Linked DNA regions of Homo sapiens: region 1 is linked to region 2. The links come from fine-mapping of genetic effects on gene expression. Tissue or cell type: whole blood. Region 2 holds a variant in brackets; the other region holds the start of a gene. All regions are shown on one strand. Distances are from middle to middle.

Evidence for each region. PIP is the estimated chance that this variant, and not a neighbour inherited with it, causes the effect.
Region 1: FGFR4 starts here. The variant in region 2 is fine-mapped to the expression of FGFR4 in whole blood (INTERVAL, PIP above 0.99).

The regions. Positions count from the first base shown.
Region 1 is chr5:177,081,979-177,091,830 of GRCh38, reverse strand. FGFR4 (fibroblast growth factor receptor 4) reads right to left here and starts at 4,916. Exons shown (of 18, transcript NM_213647.3): 1 at 4,754-4,916; 2 at 2,138-2,281; 3 at 1,178-1,441; 4 at 1,006-1,086; 5 at 727-893; 6 at 23-146. The coding sequence starts at 2,228. RefSeq lists an enhancer at 4,400-4,850, silencers at 4,546-5,005, 5,256-5,305 and a promoter at 4,816-5,035.
Region 2 is chr5:177,032,479-177,043,370 of GRCh38, reverse strand. It overlaps ZNF346 (zinc finger protein 346), which reads right to left. Exons shown (of 7, transcript NM_012279.4): 2 at 2,142-2,245; 3 at 1,501-1,593. Among named protein-coding and RNA genes, the nearest start is that of ZNF346, 15 kb to the right of the region's middle. RefSeq lists a silencer at 4,632-4,681. The variant C/A (reference allele first, on the strand shown) is at 5,100.

The DNA of each region.
Region 1 (9,852 bases), 49 kb before region 2:
CTGTTCCCAGCCCCGCGCTCACCCAGCACATCTAGCAGGTAGTTATAGCGGATGCTGCCCACAGCGTTCTCTACCAGGCAGGTGTATGTGCCGCGGTCCGAGGGCACCACGCTCTCCATCACGAGACTCCAGTGCTGATGGCGCAGCTGCAGGCAGAGAGAGTGTCCGGGACCACCGGACCATGTCCACCAAGGGGGCCAGAGGACCAGGAGGCTAGATCCTCATCCTGCCCACAGGGCTCTTGTCAAGCTCTCTAGGCCCTGAGAACATCAGGCCCAGGCCAAGGACTATGGCACAAAGGAGTAGGCTCCCCAGGGCGCTTGAGCCTTGGGTTTGAGCCTTTGGAATTTTAGCTCTCCCTCTCCCTAGCTGTGCTACTTTGAGCCAACCCTTGCCTTCTCTGAGACTCAGTTGCCTCATGACAGCATGGAGCCGACCCTGCAGGGTCTCATCAAGACGATGAGATGCTAAGGCTTATGCAGACCAACCAGTCAGTGATTCTTCTCCCTTTACAAATGGAGTTGCTGAGGCTGAGAGGTTAAGTCACTTGCCAGAGAGTAGCAGAAGGGGAACCAGAGCTGCCCAGGTCCACAGTCCAGGGCTCCTTCCGGGGCCCCGCAATCGCTTCACTCATTCGATTGATTTATAGGTATGCTTGTAGGTATGAGGGGACTGATGAAGGAATGAAAATGGGGGAGCAGACGGTCTTGGAACCCAGAGACTCACCCGAATGCCTCCAATGCGGTTCTCCCCATGAAAGGCCTGTCCATCCTTAAGCCAGCGGATGGTGGGCGTGGGGTTGCCTGCAGCTGGACAGCGGAACTTGACGGTGTTCCCCGCAGGTACTGCATGCAGTTTCTTCTCCATGCGCTGGGGGTGTGTCCAGTAGGGTGCTGGAGGGCAGGGGAAGGCCCCTAGAATGACCGTGTGTTCCCACACAGGCCTCCTCTTCTCAGTGATCAGATGAGCAGCAGCGGGGACACAAGTCCTTGGAGACCTACTGACCTTGCTGGGGGTAACTGTGCCTATTCGAGGGGTCCCTATGGGACTTGGGGTCCTCATCATCGTTGCTGGAGGTCAAGGAGTCTACATCAGGGACAGAGGGAAGCATCTAAGGTCCAAGAGGGGCAGGTCTGTCTCCCCAGGCATCCCTTCACTCCCTGCTAGAGTCTCTTACCACCTGTAATCAAGGTGAGATTCTGCAGGACGATCATGGAGCCTCGTGCCAGGCAGAGGTAGCGGCCAGCATCCTCAGGTAGGAAGCTGGCAATCTCTAGGCGGCCCCTCCAGCCCCGTACACGGCCAGCAGGTGCCAGGCGACTGCCCTCCTTGTACCAGTGGCCACCACGCTCAGCCCGCCCACAGCACAGACGCACAGGCTGCCCAAGGGCTACTGTCAGCTCCTGCTCTTGCTGCTCCAGGCTGGGAGCCAGGCAGGGCTCTGTGGGCAGAGGGCAGAGGTCAGCAGACCCCGCAGCCCCATCTGAGGCAGCCTCCTGTGTACAAAGAACACACCGCACATGCAGGGCACAAGCACTTTGCAACGCATGCTGAAGGAGCCACCACTCCTTGACACCCACACAGCCACATGCTGCGGATGCCACACCCAGGGCAAATGCCACACTCTTGGGGCATGTCACACACACAGCATTTAGTGCACACGACAGTGGCCAAGACACACACACACACACACACGCATACACACACACACATACGGACACACACACACACAAGGCACATGCTGTTGGTGCCACATACAGGGTCATGCTGCACCGGGGCATATCACCCTCATAATGCTTATACCACACATGCTGCCTGGACCTCCTAGGTCACACACCCAGTGCACAGAACACACACACACACGCACACACACCCAGGTAAGGAGCTCACCACCAGCTCTGCAGCCCAGCTTAGGGCCCTGCGCCCTGCAAGGCCAGTCCTCTCTCGCAGACACAGTGATAGATGAATGCTTGCTGGAAGCCAGGCACTGACTGAGTCTCAGTGGTTGAGCCCTGCCCTGCCGCCACCTTCTCAGGGCCTGGGCAAGGATCCTTTCCAGCTTTGCTCAGCCCAGCAGCCCCCTCCTGGTGCCCACTCTTCCCACCCCTGCCACCCTCTCCCACCTCAGAAGCCATACCAAGCTCCACTTCCTCAGAGGCCTCCAGGGACAAGACTGGAGGCCCAGGCACACTCAGCAGGACCCCCAACAGGGCCAGCAGCAGCCGCATCTCCTTCTCACAGCTCTCAGGGACCCAAGCTGGACTTCCCACCAACTGCCTTCCTAAAATAGGGAGGGAAAAGAGCTCCTGCTACACGTGCACCTTTGTGGGGGCTTTTCCCTTATTTTGCAGATAAGGAAACTGAGACAGGAAGTGGCCAGCAGATGTGTCCAAGTCCCTGGCCAGGCTGTGGCAGTGCAGACTGGAACCAGCTCTGTAGTAGCCAGAGCCTAAGGCCTCCCCACGGTAGGTTGTGCAAGGGGTCTGGGCTGGGCTTCCTGCTCTCCCTGAGTCCTGCTGGGACCCTGGCACACGTTCACAGAAAGCAGTTTTGGGATTCTTTTTTGGAGGGAAGCAGAGAACGGAGACATATCTTCTGCATGCTCTCGGCACACATAATTTCTTTTTTGCTAAATAAATGAATTGATTGCAGAAGAGCCAAAAAAGAAAGTGAAAAATGACACAAGGTCAAACTTCAGCATCTGGATGGCATCTGATCCGATCCCCACTCCTTACAGCATTACTGACATTTCCAGGGCTGGGTGGTCACAACTGACAAGGCGGCCCCTTCCGTGGCAAGCAGGACCGCGACCCTGGATACCTCTGCTTGTTATGCACCAACTCCATCTGAGGCACACACGGTTTTGTAAAGAATACAGACCCTAATTTTCCATCTGCCAGAGCCAAGTTCAAATCCTGACTCTCACCAACTTGTAATTCCTTGTCTCTGTCTCTCTCTGGCTTACTATCCTCATAGGACTGTTTTGAGGATAAAAGAGAGAACGTGCGTCGGCACGCAGAGTGTTGGAATGTTCTCCTCCCTGTGCCCGGCCCTAGAACGGTTAACCTGTTGCCCTGGGTCTGCCCTTAGCCAGTCACCTCTGGTTCGGATGCTGTTACTGTCAGGCTGTGATGTACACACACCCCAGCTGGCTATCCTCTTCCAAATGCTACCAAGGACGCCTCTGTTCCCCAAAATAGAACACTCAGAACTGAGTCTCAGCTGGGACAAAGGAATCGGTGACCACTGCAGTCCTAGGGGCCTATGGGTGGCACTGGTGTCTCTGGATCTACCCTGCGTGGGAAGCCTATCACACCTCCTCCTCCTTGGTCACTGCCACTCCACTTCCAGTCCATCTGGCTTCCCCTGCCCCTTCTCAAGGCAGGTCATGGCCATCTCTTGCATGGGCCTCTGGAAACATCCTCTCCCTCGGCTCTTCAACCTTCATCTTCCAGCAGAGTTTTAAAAAACTACAAGTCGGCTGGGCGCGATGGTTCACACCTGTAATCCCAGCACTTTGGGAGGCCGAGGTGGGCGGATCACGAGGTCAGGAGATCGAGAACATCCTGGCTAACACGGTGAAACCCCGTCTCTACTAAAAATACAAAAAATTAGCCGGGCGCGGTGGCGGGCGCCTGTAGTCCCAGCTACTCGGGAGGCTGAGGCAGGAGAATGGCGCGAACCCGGGAGGCGGAGCTTGCAGTGAGCCGAGATCGCGCCACTGCACTCCAGCCTGGGCGACAGAGTGAGACTCCGTCTCAAAAAAAACAAAATAAAAAAATAAAATAAAATAAAAAAACAAACAAAAAAACCTGCAAGTCTGCCATGTCATGCCCCCCAGCTTGCAAGCCCTTAATGGCTACCTGTGCCCAGCAGGATCCAGCTCAACATCCTAGGGCTCCCTCTCTGCCGCTGCCTATCTCTTTGGTCACACCGTCTGCCCCTTCAGGAGCGCTGAAGCCATTGGCTTTCAAAACTGGGCACATGTGCTCTCTTGCCCATCCCTCTGTGCCCCTCATTGCTCTTCTCTACCTGACTCAGATACTGCTGTCTCTGGCCCACCTCAACTCTCGAATCCAGTCGGATCCTCCTTGGTAAAACTCCCTACCAAGCTCGGCTTGGCAGGGAGGGCAGCTCTTTGGGTACACAGCTTGGGCTGGGAGTGGGTGGGGAGGCCCGGGGAGTTTATTCCTACCCCAGGCTGCCCTGATATCAGAGTCCTTAGTCGAGTCACCCATGGCTGCTGACCGCTGACCGACCACCCCCCACGTGGGAATGGAGGGCCTGCCTTAGGCATCAGACAGTCCTGGGTTCTCCTTCAGCCTCCCGCACTCGCGCTGGAGGCCCCCGGGCACTAAGTGACTGAACTTTTCGGGGCCTCAGGTCCCTCATCTCTGCCGCCGGCGCGAAGACAGCCGCAGGGACAAGCGCGCTTGTCCTCCCCCACCCTTGCCGGGCCAGCCTGGGGGGAGGTGCGAATCAATGGGTCCCGAGGGTAGCTGCACAGGGCCAGCCTGCCCCCGCCTCGGTGGGCAATGAGTAACCAGCTCCGCGGCCGGGGTGCTCTTTGGACGGAGCGGGACAAAAGGCCCTGTGTGCACTGCGGGTTACTGATTTACCGCCCCCTCCACCCCCTGCCGCCCGGCGGACGCCCAGGTCCCCTGCGCCGGGAGGGGCAGTCCCCGTAGCCCCGCCGCCTCTCGCCCCCTGGCGGCTGGGAGCGCAGCCCGGGCCCACAAGGGTTCCGGCTCACCTCGAGCCTGCGTGACTCCGCGCCCAGCACAGGGTCCTGCTCACCTGGCTCCTCCTCACCTGGCTCCTCCGCCGCCTCACTCCCAGCTCCAGCCGGCCGCGACCCCTGCACGCGGCAGGGTCCGCAGACAGCCCGAGCGCTCCTCGGCCGGGAGCGAGGAATGTACCCGCGACGGCGGCGTGGCCGCGAGCGGCCCACCTCCTGTCCCACCCCGCCCCTCGGGCCCGCCCCCTCCTGCTCGGGCCCGCCCCTCCTTCCACGCCCCCCCCCCCCCCACCCGGGCCCGCCCACCTCCTGCCACACCCCCTCGGGCCCGCCCCGCCTAGACCAGCTCGAGCCGGAGAGAGGTGTGGCCAGGGGTGGCCAAGATCCCCGCCCACCTGGAGAGCCCCGCCCCCGACCCAGTCAGCCCACTCCCGGGACCCCGCCCCAGCCTATACACACACCCCTACACGCAACCCCCCTATACACACCCCATTCAGGCTCCGCCTCTTTCGCCCCACCCAGGCCCCAGGCCAGGCTCCTAAATTCTAGTCTACTACCCAGCTCTACTCCTTGCTTTTCACCCTTCAGGGAATGCCTGGCTCCCCTGTCTTCTGCGCAGTGCCGTGCAGCGGATAGGAGAACCCCTTCCTTCTGCTCCCTCATTTGTTCCCTGCGCAACCTGCGGAGTGATACTTACAACACAAATCTGACTGTGTCAGCCACTCCCTTAAATTTTCCTATAGATTCCCATAGCTCTTTATACATAGATTGCCATGACCCACGCCTCCTGGCTCCCACCCTGCTACTCCTGGGCAGTTTCACGTACCATTCTCTCTTCCTGGAATGGCCCTTGGTCTGGTTAATTTCATATTATTCTCAGCTCACTTCCTTCAGGAAGCCCTCTGGACTTGCAAGCTCCTCTTAGATGACGTCTCTACTGTGAGGATGGAGAAAGAAACAGGGTGAAGTGGTTCAGAGCACAGACTACAGGGCTGGACGTCATAGGCCCAGCTCTCAGCACCATCACACAAGGCCTCAGTCTTCACTGTCCTTTCAGTAAAACAGGCAAATGATAGTCTCACCCACAAGAGGTTGTTGCAAAAAGTAGACATGTTAGCAGTATGTGTAAGCCTGGCATGCAGCGCTTGCTTTGTAATACTAGCTGTAATTATTTAGGACCTGTTATTTCTTCAGCACGCTTGCCAGAATTGTAACTGAACAGTTAATTATGTAAATAGCTGTGGAATGGCCGGGCACAATGACGGGTGCCTGTAGTTCTAGTTACTAGGAGACTGAGGTAGGAGGACAGCTTGAATTCAGGAGTGTGAGGCCAGCCCTGGCAACATAGTTGCCCTGTCTCTATTTTTCAGTAGAGGAACTGTGTCCTCAGACCTCACCATTAGAGTTCAAGTGTCTGGCATACAGTAGGTGCTCCCAGATAGCTCCGTGCCCACCTGGCTCATGTTTGCCTCACCTGTAAGCACTTCTCTCCTGAGCATCTAGACTGTGGCCAAACCAGGAGGCCAGGCAGCCTCTGATCTCTGCCCATCCCTCACCTGAATCTCAAGCCTTCTCCTTCTCTTAAGGCACCTTGAGAGGAAGGGAAATGGGCTGGGTGCACCTGTGGTCCCAGCTACTTGGGAGGCTGAGGCCAGAGGATTGCTTGAGCCCAGGAAGTCGAGGCAGCAGTGAGCCGTGATCGCTCCACTGCACTGTAGCCTGGGCAACAGGCTATGGAGCGAGACCCTGTCTGAGGCTCAGGTCCTGGTTGTCCCCTCTAGCTAGTGTAGACCCTGTCTTAAGAAGCAACTTCCTTTCTCATTGTTACGCAGGCAAGTCTAGTTCTTTCCACCCTCACTCCCAAAGGGATAGTGGCATATCTTTGCATAACTGTAAGGCCCATTAAAGAGACTTAAAATTGTTTTTTTCTTTTTCTTCTTAAGCGAAAGAATGGTCTCCTCCCAAAGATAAATCAGAAAATAATTGAGGCCAGGCATGGTGGCTCATGCCTATAATCCCAGCACTGTGGGAGGCTGAATCGGGAGGATCGCTTGAACTCAGGAGTTCGAGGCCAGCCTGGGCAACATAGTGAGATCTCGTCTCTATTAAAAATATATATTAGGCTGGGCACGGTGGCTCACGCCTGTAATCTCAGCACTTTGGGAGGCTTAGGTGGGTGGATCACGAGGTCAGGAGTTCAAGACCAACCTGGCAAGATGGTGAAACCCCAGCTCTACTAAAAATACAAAAAAATTAGCCAGGCATGGTGGCATGTGCCTGTAATCTCAGCTACTAGGGAGGCTGAGGCAGAGAATTGCTTGAACCCGGGAGGTGGAGGTTGCAGTGAGCCGAGATCGTGCCATTGCACTCCAGACTGGGTGACAGAGTGAGACTTTGTCTCCAAAAAAAAAAAAAAATATATATATATATATATATGTGTGTGTGTGTGTGTGTGTGTGTGTCTGTGTGTGTCTGTGTGTCTGTGTGTATATACATACACACAGACACACCCACACATATATATGTATATTATAAATTTTTTTTTAATTGGTTATCTTTTAAAAACAATTTGTCCTGGTTCCCTTCTCTAGAGTCCTGCCTTGCTGGAGCTCCCAGGACAGATGAGGCTCCTGGCCCTGGGAGCTGCCTGCCCAGAGGGTACCTTGCCAGACCTCCCGGACTGCTGGAGGGGTTCAGCTCCCTGCCTCTGGCCCTCTGCTGGCTCCCCTTGTGAATGTGGTTGTGGGGGGAGACAGGGTGAGCCGCCAGCTGGAGCTGGACCCCACATGGCTTTCATTCACCTTCCCGGGCATTTCCTGAGTTTACCAGAGCCAAAGACAAACTAAAAGTTTTCATAGCTCAGGTCTTGCAACCTCCTTGTCTCCTGAGATGCGCAAATCCCTCAGATTTGCAACCCTCTGATGTCCCTAGGATATGTTCCCCATATCCCTTGTCTGCCTCCTCTCCCCGCACTCATAACCTTTCACACTGACCCTCCACAGAGGCTGATGCTCCCTCACAAAGTCATTCACTCATTCACTCATTCATCTGAATGATTATTTATTGAAGGTTCATTATGTGGCATCCACTGTTTTAAATCCTGGGGATAAAGCCCCGAATTGGACTCTTTTTCTTTTCTTTTCTTTGGGAGACAGTGTCTTGCTCTGTTGTCCAGGCTGGAGTGCAGTGGTGTGATCTTAGTTCACTGCAAGCTCTGCCTCCTGGGTTCAAGTGATTCTCCTGCCTCAGGCTCCTGAGTAGCTGGGATTACAAATGTGCACTACTACACCTGGCTAATTTTTATATTTTTAGTAGAGACAAGGTTTCACCATATTGACCAGGCTAGTCTCAAACTCCTGACCTCAAGTTATCTGCCCATGTCAGCCTCCTCAAATGCTGGGATTACAGATGTGAGCCACCTCACCTGGCCTGGACCCTACTTCTACCCTTCAAGGGGCTGCTGACATTGTAGTGGGGACAGACAGATAAGTAATCAGTTACAGCCTGGGAGATAAGCTGAGCCAGTCAGGGAGAGCACCTAAGCCTTTCACACTGTCTCACTCTCTTGCTGACACGCAATCTTTCACCAGTCACATTTGCAGTCTCTTTCTCAAAGACATTCAGACACGACTGGGCACAGTGGCTCACTCCTGTAATCCCAGCACTTTGGGAGTCTGAGGTGGGCGGATCACTTGAGGTCAGGAGTTCGAGACCACCCTGGCCAACATGGTAAAACCCCATCTCTACTAAAAATACAAAAATTGGCCAGGCATGGTGGCACACGCTTGTAATCCCAGCTACTGGGGTGGCTGAGGCAGGAGAATCACTTGAACCTGGGAGGCAGATGTTGCATTGAACCAAGATCACGCACTGCACTCTAGCCTGGGAAACAGAGCAAGACCCTGTCTCAAAAAAAAAAAAAAATACATTCAGACACACACACACACACACACACACACTCTCTCTCTCTCTCTCTCTCGCTTAGCAGAGGCAAGAGCCTGTCACCCTAAGATCCTGCTGTTAACCTGCCTCTGCCTCAGTTTCCCCACCCAGAAAGCCGTCATGCTCCAGCTTCCTCTTCTTCCTTTTTTTTTTTTTTTTTTTGTGGAGATGGAGCCTCGCTCTATTGCCCAGGCTGGAGTGCAGTGGCGTGATCTTGGCTCACTGCAACCTCCGCCTCCCAGGCTCAAGCAATTCTCCTGCCTCTCCTGCCTCAGCCTTCCTAGTAGCCGGGACTACAGGCGCCTGCCACCACACCCAGCTAATTTTTGTATTTTTGTAGAGACGGGGTTTCACCATGTTGGCCAGGCTGGTCTCGATCTCCTGACCTCAGGTGATCCACCCGTCTCGGCCTCCCAAAGTGCTGGCATTACAGGCGTGAGCAACGGCTCCCGGCTGCTCCAGCTTCTTTCTTCCTAGGAGTGTTGGGGGAAATGAACGTGTTCCTGTTCCTGAGCTCGTGACTCTTCAGCTCCCGTTACATGCCAGGCATCATGCTGGGTGTTGTACATGGGTTATATCCTTTAATTCTTCCACCAAGCCAAATGGCATAGGAATCCTTAGCTCTGATTTGTAGGTGAAGAAACAAGCTCAGGGAGATGGAATTACTTATTTGAGGTCATCTAGCAAGTGAATTGCAGAACTCGAACCCCTGTCTTCTGGGGCAAAGATGGAGAGCTCGGGATAACTCTCCAGAGTGGGATCATTGATGCTACTGCATCAGATGCTTTCTGTCTCCATCCTTAACTGTGGCCCGGGAAGGTGCAGATTCACCTGAAGGTGAGTGTGTTGGGGAGGGAGGTGTGGGGGCTGGGACTGAGCACTGCACTCCTTGACCTTTTAGCCAGCAGTCCTGAGGAGACACCAGGCCCAGGCAGGGGTTTGCAGACTCTGTGCCTCTGGAATGCTGGGCTGGGCCAGGAGGGTCTCCTGAGGCCAGGTCCTACCCCCCACCTGCCTGGGGGCAGAGTCATCGGGGGGTAGAGGGCAGACGTTGCCTGGTGCCAACGATGTTGCTCTTGGATGGCAGCCGGGCCCAGGGAACACTGGGGCTCTTGTGCAGAAGGGCTGCCACTAAAGCCGGCCCGGCCCCTGCCCAGGCCCCACTGCAGCCC
Region 2 (10,892 bases):
AAATATGTAAAATAACTTGCCCAGGGTCATAGAGTTTATCTTGCCTTTCTGAATTATAAATTGTGAGAAAAGGGCCAGGTGTGGTGGCTCATACCTGTAATCCTGGTACTTTGGGAGCCTGAGGTGGGAGGATCACTTGAGACCAGGAATTTGAGACCAGCCTGGGCAACAAAGCGAGACCCTGTCTCTACGAAAAATTTTTTAAAAAATCAGCCAGGCGGCTGGGCGCAGTGGCTCACACTTGTAATCCCAGCACTTTGGGAGGCTGAGGCAGGCAGATCACTTGAGATCAGAGGTTTGAGACCAGCCTGGCCAACCTGGTGAAACCCTATCTCTACTAAAAATACAAAAATTAGCTGGGTGTGGTGGCGCGTGCCTGTAGTCCCAGCTACTTCAGAGGCTGAGGCAGGGGAATCGCCTGAACCCAGGAGGTGGAGGTTGCAGTGAGCTGAGATCGTGCCACTGCACTCCAGTTAGCCAGGCGTGGTGGTGTGTGCCTGTAGTCCTAGCTACTTGGGAGGTTGAAGTGGGAGGATCACTTGAGCTTGGGAGGTTGAGGCTGCAGTGAGCCGTGACTGCACCACTGCACTCCAGCCTGGGTAACAGAGCCAGGTCCTGTCTCACAAATAGACAGATAGAGAAATAGAAAGGAGGGAAACCAGGGATAAATAAATAAATAATAAGGGAAACCAGGGGATGAGTCCAGTAAATTTTGAGAAGAGATAAACAAGGACCTTCCTGACCTGTGGCTACTATAATAGGAGGTAGCAGTCTATAGAGTAAACTCTTATTTATTGAGCATCTACTAGGAATTGAAATTTTACCTCACAATACCCTTAAGAAGTAGGCATTATCTCTACTTTATGGGGGAAGTTCACAGAGGTTAAGTGACTTGGCCAAACTCACCCGATCAGTAAGACACACAGCCAGCTTTGAGCCCTAGTCTGCTTAACTTCTCTTCCCATGATGAGATGGTACTCCTGAGGGATTGGGGGTTGCTTCAGCATAATGCTCATATTATTTCTGAGCCAAAAAGCACATGTGATCACCTCTCAATCACAGCAGACATTTGGAAAGGTGTTCCTTCTGCTTATTTATGCAAAACATTCAAGTGCTGAACTTAGTTCTTTTCCTTGGCCCTCAAGAAAGCAAGCAGCCTGGCTTCTTTCCATTTTCTCTTGTCTTGCTCTAACAAACCACTAGGCGGTAATATGTAATACCAGCTCCATTACTGAGTCCCTACTATGTGCCAGGCTCTGAATTGGGTGCTTTTTATAAATCTGCCCTCAATTTTAGTTCTAAAAAATCCTGAAAGGTAGTTGATATTACCATCCTCATTTTTATAGAGGAAGAAATCAAGGCTTTGTGAAGTAATAGACTTGCCCGAGTCACACAACAGGGCCAGGATTTGAAGCCAAGACAGTCTGACTTGTTCACCACACCAACCTGCTGGCTGGCTTCATCATGAAGCAAGTGGGCTCAATATGGCAGCTGTATTACCTGATCTGAGTCTAGCTTCTTCGTTTCCCCCTTTAATGTCTCCATTCCATGGATTGCTAGGTATCTCTTCACTTTGTTGGCATGTTTTTTGCTCTGCAAAAACCCAGGAGAAAGATCAAAGATAGCCAAATGCTACTTCATACTTAAGGCACTCAAAAACACTTATGAGATTTTCATCTGATTCATCCTCACAAAAAGTTTTGAGGAGGAGGTGAGGGAAGTTTGAGTTCCTGCTCTGTGCAAGGCATTTTACAGCTACCAAATTTAATCTTCACAATCTATGAGAAAATTATGACCATTTCTATTTTATGGATGAGGAAACTACATCTAAAAATGATGAAGTTTCTTGCTCAAGATGAGTAGCAGAGTTTTGATTTAAAGTCAGATCTATTTAAAGCCAAAGCTCATACTTTATGCTATGCCAAGCTGCAAGGGAAGATACACATATAATGATCCTGATTTGGATGGGGGAGATGAGACTCAAGGAGATTAAGTCAATCTTCAAGTCACAAGCCAACATGCATGGAGGCAACATCTGGGTGGCTAAGCAGCAATTACACTTCACCATGCAAGCCAGAGAGAATTAGTGGTTTGGCACCAGGTCTGAAAAGAAACGCAGTTCTAAAAGTATGATGGCATACCTGGTAATGTGCCAGCTTCTGGGACTCAGAAATAAGCAAGGCGCAGCAAACCTTACACTGGGTGTTGGTGAAGAGACATTGGTTCTTCTGGATCATGTGCTCCACTATAGAGGGGAAAACAAGAAATCATTGAGTTGACAAACACTACCTCAACAGCACTGCCTTTGAACCCTGCCTCAAACACAGGCACTGAATGATGGGATGCCATACTAGGACACTGGCAGACCTCAGCCAGCCTTTCCTACTGCCACCGTGACTCATGCTGTGTTCTCACACCACCTACACTATTACTTATTTTATAATTTTATGTATGCCAACTTTCTTTACTTAGGAACTTCTTTTAAAAAGGAATCTTTAGATCATAAACTTAAGCAGATACCAATAAAAATAAATATGATAAAAATGAGGCTTGGAGCATTCCCCAGGAAGAAGAGAACAGCAACTGTGCTGAGAGGTTTTAAGATATGGTAGCACCCAACTGAAACTTCTTCCCAGATAGAATCAGGAGGACTGAAAGACTCGAAAAAGGAATACTTTTCTCATTGTTCTTGATCTGACTTTGAAACATTTAAAATCACATAACAGGGTGGGGCGTGGTGGCTCACGCCTGTAATCCTAGCACTTTGGGAGGCCGAGGTGGGCAGATCACCTGAGATCAGGAGTTCGAGACCAGCCTGGCCAACATGGTGAAACCCTGTCTCTACTAAAAATACAAAAATTAGCCAGGTGTGGTGGCAGGCACCTATAATCCCAGCTACTCGGGAGGCTGAGGCAGGAGAATTGTTTGAACCCAGGAGGCAGAGGTTGTAGTGAGCTGAGGTTGTGCCACTAACTCCAACTTGGGTGACAGAGCTAGACTCTGTCTCTAAATAAATAAATAAAATAAAATCACATAACGTATTATATAAGTGCCACACTATATGAAACATGGTATTAACCTGTGCTTAAATTATTGTGCCTGGAGAACAGTCTTACCTTTTTGAGAAGAGAAGAGGAGGTAAAATCTCTCCCAAGGCATAAGTTCATTTTTGTTTGTTTTTTTTTTTTTTGAGAGGGAGTCTCGCTCTGTCACCCAGGCTGGAGTGCAGTGGCATGATGTCGGCTCACTGCAAGCTCCGCCTCCCAAGTTCACACCATTCTCCTGCCTCAGCCTCCCGAGTAGTTGGGATTACAGGCACCCACCACCACGCCCAACTAATTTTTTTGTATTTTTAGTAGAGACGGGGTTTCATCGTGTTAGCCAGGATGGTCTCGATCTCCTGACCTCGTGATCCACCCACCTTGGCCTTCCAAAGTGCTGGGATTACAGGCGTGAGCCACCGCGCCCGGCCAAGGCATGAGTTCTATCATGGCGCTGGCAATGTGAGGCAGAGGCAGAGGCAGAGTCTAAAACTGGGAGAGGAGGGCAGGCCCACATTTTTAATCTCCTGGTCTCAGCCAAAAAGTGGTCAAGGCTAGGCACAGTGGCTCACACCTGTAATCCCAGCATTTTGGGAGGCTGAGGTGGGAGGATGGGTTGAGCCCAGGAGTTTGAGACCAGCCTGGGCAAGATGGTGAGACTCTGTCTCTACATAGAAACAAACACACCAACAAACCAAAAACTAGCCGGGGGTGGTGGCACATGCCTGTGGTTCCAGCTTCATGGGAGGCTAAGGCTGAGACAGAGACAGAAGGATTGCTTGAGCTCAGGAGGTCAAGGCTATGGCAAGCCATGTTAGTGCCACTGTACTCCAGCCTGGATAACAGAGCAAGCCCCTGTCTTAAAAAAAAAAAAGTCGATGCCCTGGAAGAGGTTCTTGGTGGGGAGCTTTTAAGATGTCTCTCCTTAATCCACAAAATCTAAAGCTTACCTATGTCAGCCCTTTTAGGCAGAAGGGCTGTATTTCTGCCCCTAATGATCTCTTTTTATTTCTGCATTTTTCTTTTAAATGGTAAATTTTTGTGAAAGACCTTGCCTGTCTTAGCTATGCTCTGAAAAACCAAGAGAAATGACTCTATAAACAAAATTGGCCCAGAACTTTTAAAAGAGGGTCAGAGGTGGCCAGGCACGATTGGTAATGCCTGTAATCTTAGCACTTTGGGAGGCCAAGGTGGGTGGATCATCTGAGGTCAGGAGTTTGAGACCAGCCTGGCCAACATGGTAAAACCCCATCTCTACTAAAAATACAAAACTAGCCGGGTGTGGTGAAGCATGCCTGTAATCCCTGCTACTTGGGAGACAGAGGCAGGACAATCACTTGAACCTGGGAGGCAGAGGTTGCAGTGAGCCGAGATTGTGCCATTGCACTCCAGCCTGAGCAACAGCAAAACTCGGACACACACACACACACACACACACACACACACACACACAAGAAGAAGAAGAAAAAAGAAGAAAAAAAAGAGGGTCAGAGGCTTCTCACAATAAGAAACCCACATGGGGAAGGTAATACCCAGGGGTCAGAGTTCAGTCATCACTTCCTCACCTGGAGATTGTGGATTTTGTTTTGTTCAAGAGATGAGGTTTCAAGCATATTCAGAATCAGACTCCCAAACCCACAGCAAGGGCAGGTAAGCACCTGCTAAATAAATGTACCTCTCTGCTGGAATGCACTCTCTGGCCTTAGAGAGTACATTCACATAGTCCACACAAATATATTTATAATACGTGCTTTGTGTCAACACTGCACTTAGTGCTGGGGGCCATACCAACAAAGAAGATGGGGTATAAAGTAAAAAATAAGCAAGACAATGACAGAGAATTAGAAATGCTATGAAAACAAGCAGAGTACGGGGTAGAGAATGACGGGGCAGGAGAGTTAGTAAAGACCATCACAGGGCCGGTTGTGGTGGCTCACACCTATAATCCCAGAAACTCAACAGGCTGAGGCAAGAGGATTGCTTCAGCCCAGAAGTTTCAGACTGTCCTGGGCAACACAGGGAGAGCCACATCTCTACAAAAATTAAAAAACACACACA[C/A]ACAAAAAAAAAAAACGTAGTTGGGCATGGTGGCGCATGCCTGTAGTCTTAGCTATTCAGGAGGCTGAGGTGGGAGAATCCCTTGAGCCTAGAAGTTTGAAGCTTCAGTGAGCCGTGAATGTGCCACTGCACTCCAGCCTAGGCAACAGAGAAAGACTTTGACTCTGAAAATTTAAAAAAAAAAAAAAAAATCATCATGGGGAAGTGTCAGCCACAAGGCTTACAGGAAAAGAGTGTTCCAACCTGAAACAGTATTAAGTCTGTGAGGCAGGGATGAGTTTGGCATATTCCATGTTCAAAGAATGGAGAGAAGCCCACTATGCCTGGAATATGGTGAATGAGAGAAGAATGGTAGGAAATTAAGTTGGAGAGACAGCATGAGGCCTAGTAGATGATGTTGAATGAATATAAGGCTCCATAAGCCACAGTATGAACTACGGATTTTATTGTTAGTGTAATGAGAGGTGACAAGATCTGGTTTGCCCTTGAAAAGATTACTCTGACAGTTGTTGTCAACAGACTGTATGGGGACAAGAATGGAAGCAGAAAGAACAAGGAGAAGGCTGCTGTAGTCTTCAGAGAATAGATGATGGAAGCTTGGACTAGGCAGGTTGTCAGTGGAGATGGAGAAAAGTGAATGAATTTGGAATTATGTTCCGGCAATAGGTTTGACATCTGATTTCTTAGACTGGATGTGGGGGTGGGAGTGAAGGAAGGAAAGGAGTCAAGGATAACTCCTAGGTTTTGAACTTGAACAAGTGAATAGATTAGAACTAGGGGAAGATAGCCTTGGAGGAAAAATTAAAGACTTTTCGTTATGTGAGTGTGAGTAGTCTATCAGATATATAGGTGGAGATGAGTTGGAGATTCAGATCTGTCAGTCACTTGAAGCTCAAGGGGGAGGTCAGAGCTGGAGATATAAATGGGGAATCATTGGTATATCAATCATATTGAACACTGTGGGGCTGGAAGAGATTGCCTAGCGTAGATGAAGAAGGAAAGAGGTTCAGAGACTGAGCCTTGGGACCCTCCCAATTTTGAAGTCAGGCAGAGGAAGCGAAGTTGAATATAAAACAAAGTGAGTACAGGGTGGAACTTCTGGCCAAGGCAGAGTGAGGAGATCTCCTGCAGAAGCAACAATAAAACAGGACAAAACTGACAAAACCGGACAAAACTGACAAAACCAACCACTTCAGCACTCTGGAAGTTAACCAAAGGGACTTAACAATCCGAGAGCAATTTTGTGCTTGCAAAACTGCTGAACTTCAGGTAAGAACAGTAGGAATCAGCGGCTTTTTTTTTTCCCCAGATGGGGAAAAACAAACAAACAAACAAAACCTCAGGGTTTCCCAGGCTGCAGTGCCCACACTGGAGTGCAGTGGCATAATGTCAGCTCACTGTAGCCTCAATTTCCCAGGCTCAGGTGAGGCTGCTCTCAGCCCTTCCTGCAATCGGTGTAGAAACTCTGGCAAGAAGGTGCTAGCCATGAAAACAAATAGCTTCCATACAGAAGGAAGGAAATCACTTGATTTCCTTTACATGTAGCAATATTGTTGATGGAAATGATGATCTCCAAGGCAGTAAGCAGGAAGAGTGAAAGGCTTCACTGGCCGGAGGTGTGCTCATGGTTGGGGCAAGTGTGTTCCTGGCTGAGACTGTGTGACAGCGGAGACCTGAGAGGGCCCAAGTTAGCCACATACTCATGGCCACCCTGAGGCTGCGTACACACACAAAAGAGATGCAAAAGGACCTCGTGGGAAGGGTAGATCTCAAAATGACTTGAACTTTGATTATGCTTCCCTACCAACACACAGATCCAACAATACAAAATCAAGGGCTTATAGGCTCCAGGTGTTTAGAACAAGATCTTGTTGAATCCCTAGTTAATCTGACCACTAAGCAACATAAACACATTAAAGTAGAAATTATAAAAGGGAACCAAATTGGGAATGTTTGCTTTTAAAGCCTTTGCCCACCATGTAAGCAGTCTGACTGCTCTGAGGCCACCAAGCTGTGAGAAACCCCAGACTATTTCATGCATCAAGACCACATGGAGAGTTCCTGACACCACATGAAAAGAGAGATGTCTGGCCAGCCCCCAGAGGCTCCACCCCGCTGTTGTTTCAGCTCTAGCTCCCAGATGCTCCATTTCCCTGCTGTTTCAACTTGAGCCACCATCTGACTGCAACTGCATAAGAGACCCTGAATCAGAACTATCCAGCCAAGCCTTTCCCAAATTCCTGGCCCACAAAAACTGAGAGGTTTATGAGGTTGGAGGAAGCTAAGGCCCACAGAGGGAAAAAAAAAAAAAACTTGGATAAAATTGTCAATTAGGCCGGGTGCGGTAGCTCACGCCTGTAATACCAGCACTTTGGGAGGCAGAGGCGGGCGGATCACGAGGCCAGGAGTTCAAGACCAGCCTGGCCAACATAGTGAAACCCTGTCTCTACTAAAAATACAAAAAAGTTTAGCCCCAGGGCATGGTGGCAGGTGCCTGTGTCCCAGCTACTTGGGAGGCTGAGGCAGGAGAATCGATTGAACCCAGGAGGCGGAGGTTGCAGTGAGCCGAGATCATGCCACTGCACTCCAGCCTGCGCGACACAGTGAAACTGTCTCAAAAAAAAAAAAAAAAAAAAAAGTCAATTAGCCGGGTGTGATGGTAAGGCACTTGTAATTCCAGTTACTCGGGAGGCTGAGACAGGAGAACTGCTTGAACCCGGGAGGCGGAGGCTGCAGTCAGCCAAGATTGCGCCATTGCACTCCAGCCTGGGCAACAGGAGTAAAACTCTGTCTCAAAAAAAAAAAAAAATTGTCAAAATTCTGAGATGGCAGCCTGACTACACATCCTTTTTGCCATGATATCTGCACACAACTTTAATCCAACTACCAACTATCTCTCCAGGGTGCAAAAGATTTGATATGGAAAATGAGGTGCTTTTCATTCATTCACTGGAGAGGCAGGGCGTGGTGGCTCAGCCTGTAATCCCAACACTTGGGAAGGCCAAGGCAGGTAGATTGCTTGAGGCCAGGAGTTTGAGACCAGCCTCGCCAACATGGCAAACCCCCGTCTCCACCAAAAATAAAAAAATTAGGCAGGCATGGTGCTATGTGCCTATAATCCCAGCTACTTGGGAGGCTGAGGCACAAGAATCACTTGAACCCAGGAGGTGGAGGTTGCAGTGAGCCAAGATCGTGCCACTACACTTGAGCCTGGGCGACAGAGTAAGACTCCATCTCAAAAAAAAAAAAGAAAAGAAAAGAAAAGAAAAAGAAAATCACTAGAGAGGCTGAAAGTATGATACTAGGTTGGGCCTCCAGAAACATCTCCAGGAATAATGCATACATGTTCCAATAGGTGACCTACAGTCTCTGAGGCTCCTTCACAGCTCTGCTGGAAGCAAGATGCTTTGACTGTAACAACTTCTCTCTCAACCTATGAAGCTGGACAACGGATGCTGGAAAACTGATGTAGTTCCATGACCTTTTTTGACAGCAACAATAGCCAAGAGGCACAGAAGTATGGTCTTTACTGCATTTCTGCATTCTACATCCTATGAGATGTTACGTATTCACAGGATTTAATTTATATCCACATGATAGCCAAGTAAAAGATGTATGGGGCAGAGGCTGAGAGATGCCATCTAGAGTATGAAGCACAGGGCTGCTTTTCACAGGGTCGATGAAGTAGGAACACAGAGAACTTTTGTGGGACAGCAAGATAATTAATAAACTTAACAAATTTAAGGGTTGGGTGTGATGGTTCATGCCTATAATCCCAGCACTTTGGGAGGCTGAGGTGGAAGGACCGCTTGAGCCCAGGAGTTCAAGAACCAGCCTGGGCAACATAGTGGGACCCTGTCTTTACAAAAAACCAAAAAAGATTAGCTGAGTGTCGTGGTGCACACCTACAGTCCCAGCTACTTGGTAGGCTGAGGTGGGAGGATCGTTTGAACTTGAGCCCAGGAGGTCAAGGCTGCAGTGAAGTGAGCTGTGATCACACCACTGCACTTCAGCCTCCATCCTGGGTGACACTGCAAGACCTTGTCTCAAAATTAAAAAAAAAAAAAAGAAAGAAAGGAAATTTAAGCCAGGTGTGGTAGCCTGCATGCACTTGTAGTCCCAGCTATTCAGGAGGCTGAGGTGGGAGGATCATTTGAGCCAGGAGTTCGAGACCAGCTTAGACAACATGGTGAAACCCCATCTCTATAAAAAACTACAAAAAATTAGCTGGGTATGGTGGTGCACACTTGTTATCCCTGCTACTCAAGTGGCTGACGTGGGAGGATCACCTGAGTTTGGGAGCTCGAGGCTACAATGAGCCAGGATTGCACTGCTATGCTCCAGCCTTGGTGAGGGAGTGAGACCCTGTCTCAAAAATGACTTGCTATTCCTTAGGCCTACATGTGACCTTAGAATCTACAATTGAGCTCTGTATAAATTCATCAACTGGGCCAGGTGCGGTGGCTCACGCCTGTAATCCTAGCACTTTGGAAGGTCGAGGTGGGTGGATCACGAGGTCAGGAGATCGAGACCATCCTGGCTAACATGGTGAAACCCCATCTCTACTAAAAATACAAAAAATTAGCCATGTGTGGTGGCGGGTGCCTGTAGTCCCAGCCACTCAGGAGGCTGAGGCAGGAGAACGGCGTGAACCCAGGAGGCGGAGCTTGCAGTGAGCAGAGATCATGCCACTGCACTCCAGCCTGGGCTACAGAGTGAGACTCCATCTCAAAACAAAACAAAAACAAAAACAAAACAAAACAAAACAAAAAAATTCGTCAACTGACTGAAGGTGATCCTTAGGAAGATGAAACCTATTTACTACCCAGCTTATTAGGAGGCAAAGGGTTTTTAGGTATAGCTATAGTCAGAAAGCAGAAAATAAAAGATCCTAGGGCTGGGTCAGTGGCCCACGCCTGTAATCTGACACTCTGGGAGACTGAGGCTAGAGGATTGCTTGATGCCAGGAGTTTGAGACCAACACAGGCAGCAAAGTGAGACCTCATCTTTACAAAAAAAATTAAAAAATTATCCAGGTGTGGTGGCACACGCCTGTAGTGCTGGTTACTAGGGAAGCTGACATGGGGGAAATCACTTGAGTCTAGCAGTTCGAGGCTCTGGTGAGCCATAATTGCGCCACTGCACTTCAGCTGGGTGACAGAGCAAGATCCCCCATCTCAAAAGCAAAAACCCCTCAAACAATCATAGGAAAGGGAGGTTGGGTATAATCTACCCATGGATGAGAATGGTTAGACAATGTAGTATTTTAATGGGCAGTATGGCCTAAAAGAATGAACAAGACGGTCCTATTAAGTCTACTTAGCACTGGTACTTCCATTTTGTGAGTCCATACTGTGTTTTTGTTTTTAATTTAATTTTTTAGAGTCAGAGTCTCATTATGTTGCCTAGGCTGAATTCAGACTCCTGGCCTCAAGTGATCCTTCTGCATCAGCCTCTCAAGCAGCTGGGACTACAGGTGTGGGCCACCATGCCTGGCCAAATCCATACTGCTGATGGTCTCAAGAAGCTCAAATTTCTATCCAATGAAAAGGGCATGAAGAGGCCGGGCATGGTGGCTCACACCTGTAATGTCAGCATTTTGGGAGGCCGAGGCGGGCGGATCACCTGAGGTCAGGAGTTTGAGACCAGGCTGGCCAACGTGGTAAAACCCCATCTCTATTAAAAAGTGCAAAAATTAGCCAGGTGTGGTAGAGGGCTGGTAATCCCAGCTAACTCAGCAGGCTGAGGCAGGAGAATCGCTTGAACCCAGGAGGTGGAGGTTGCAGTGAACTG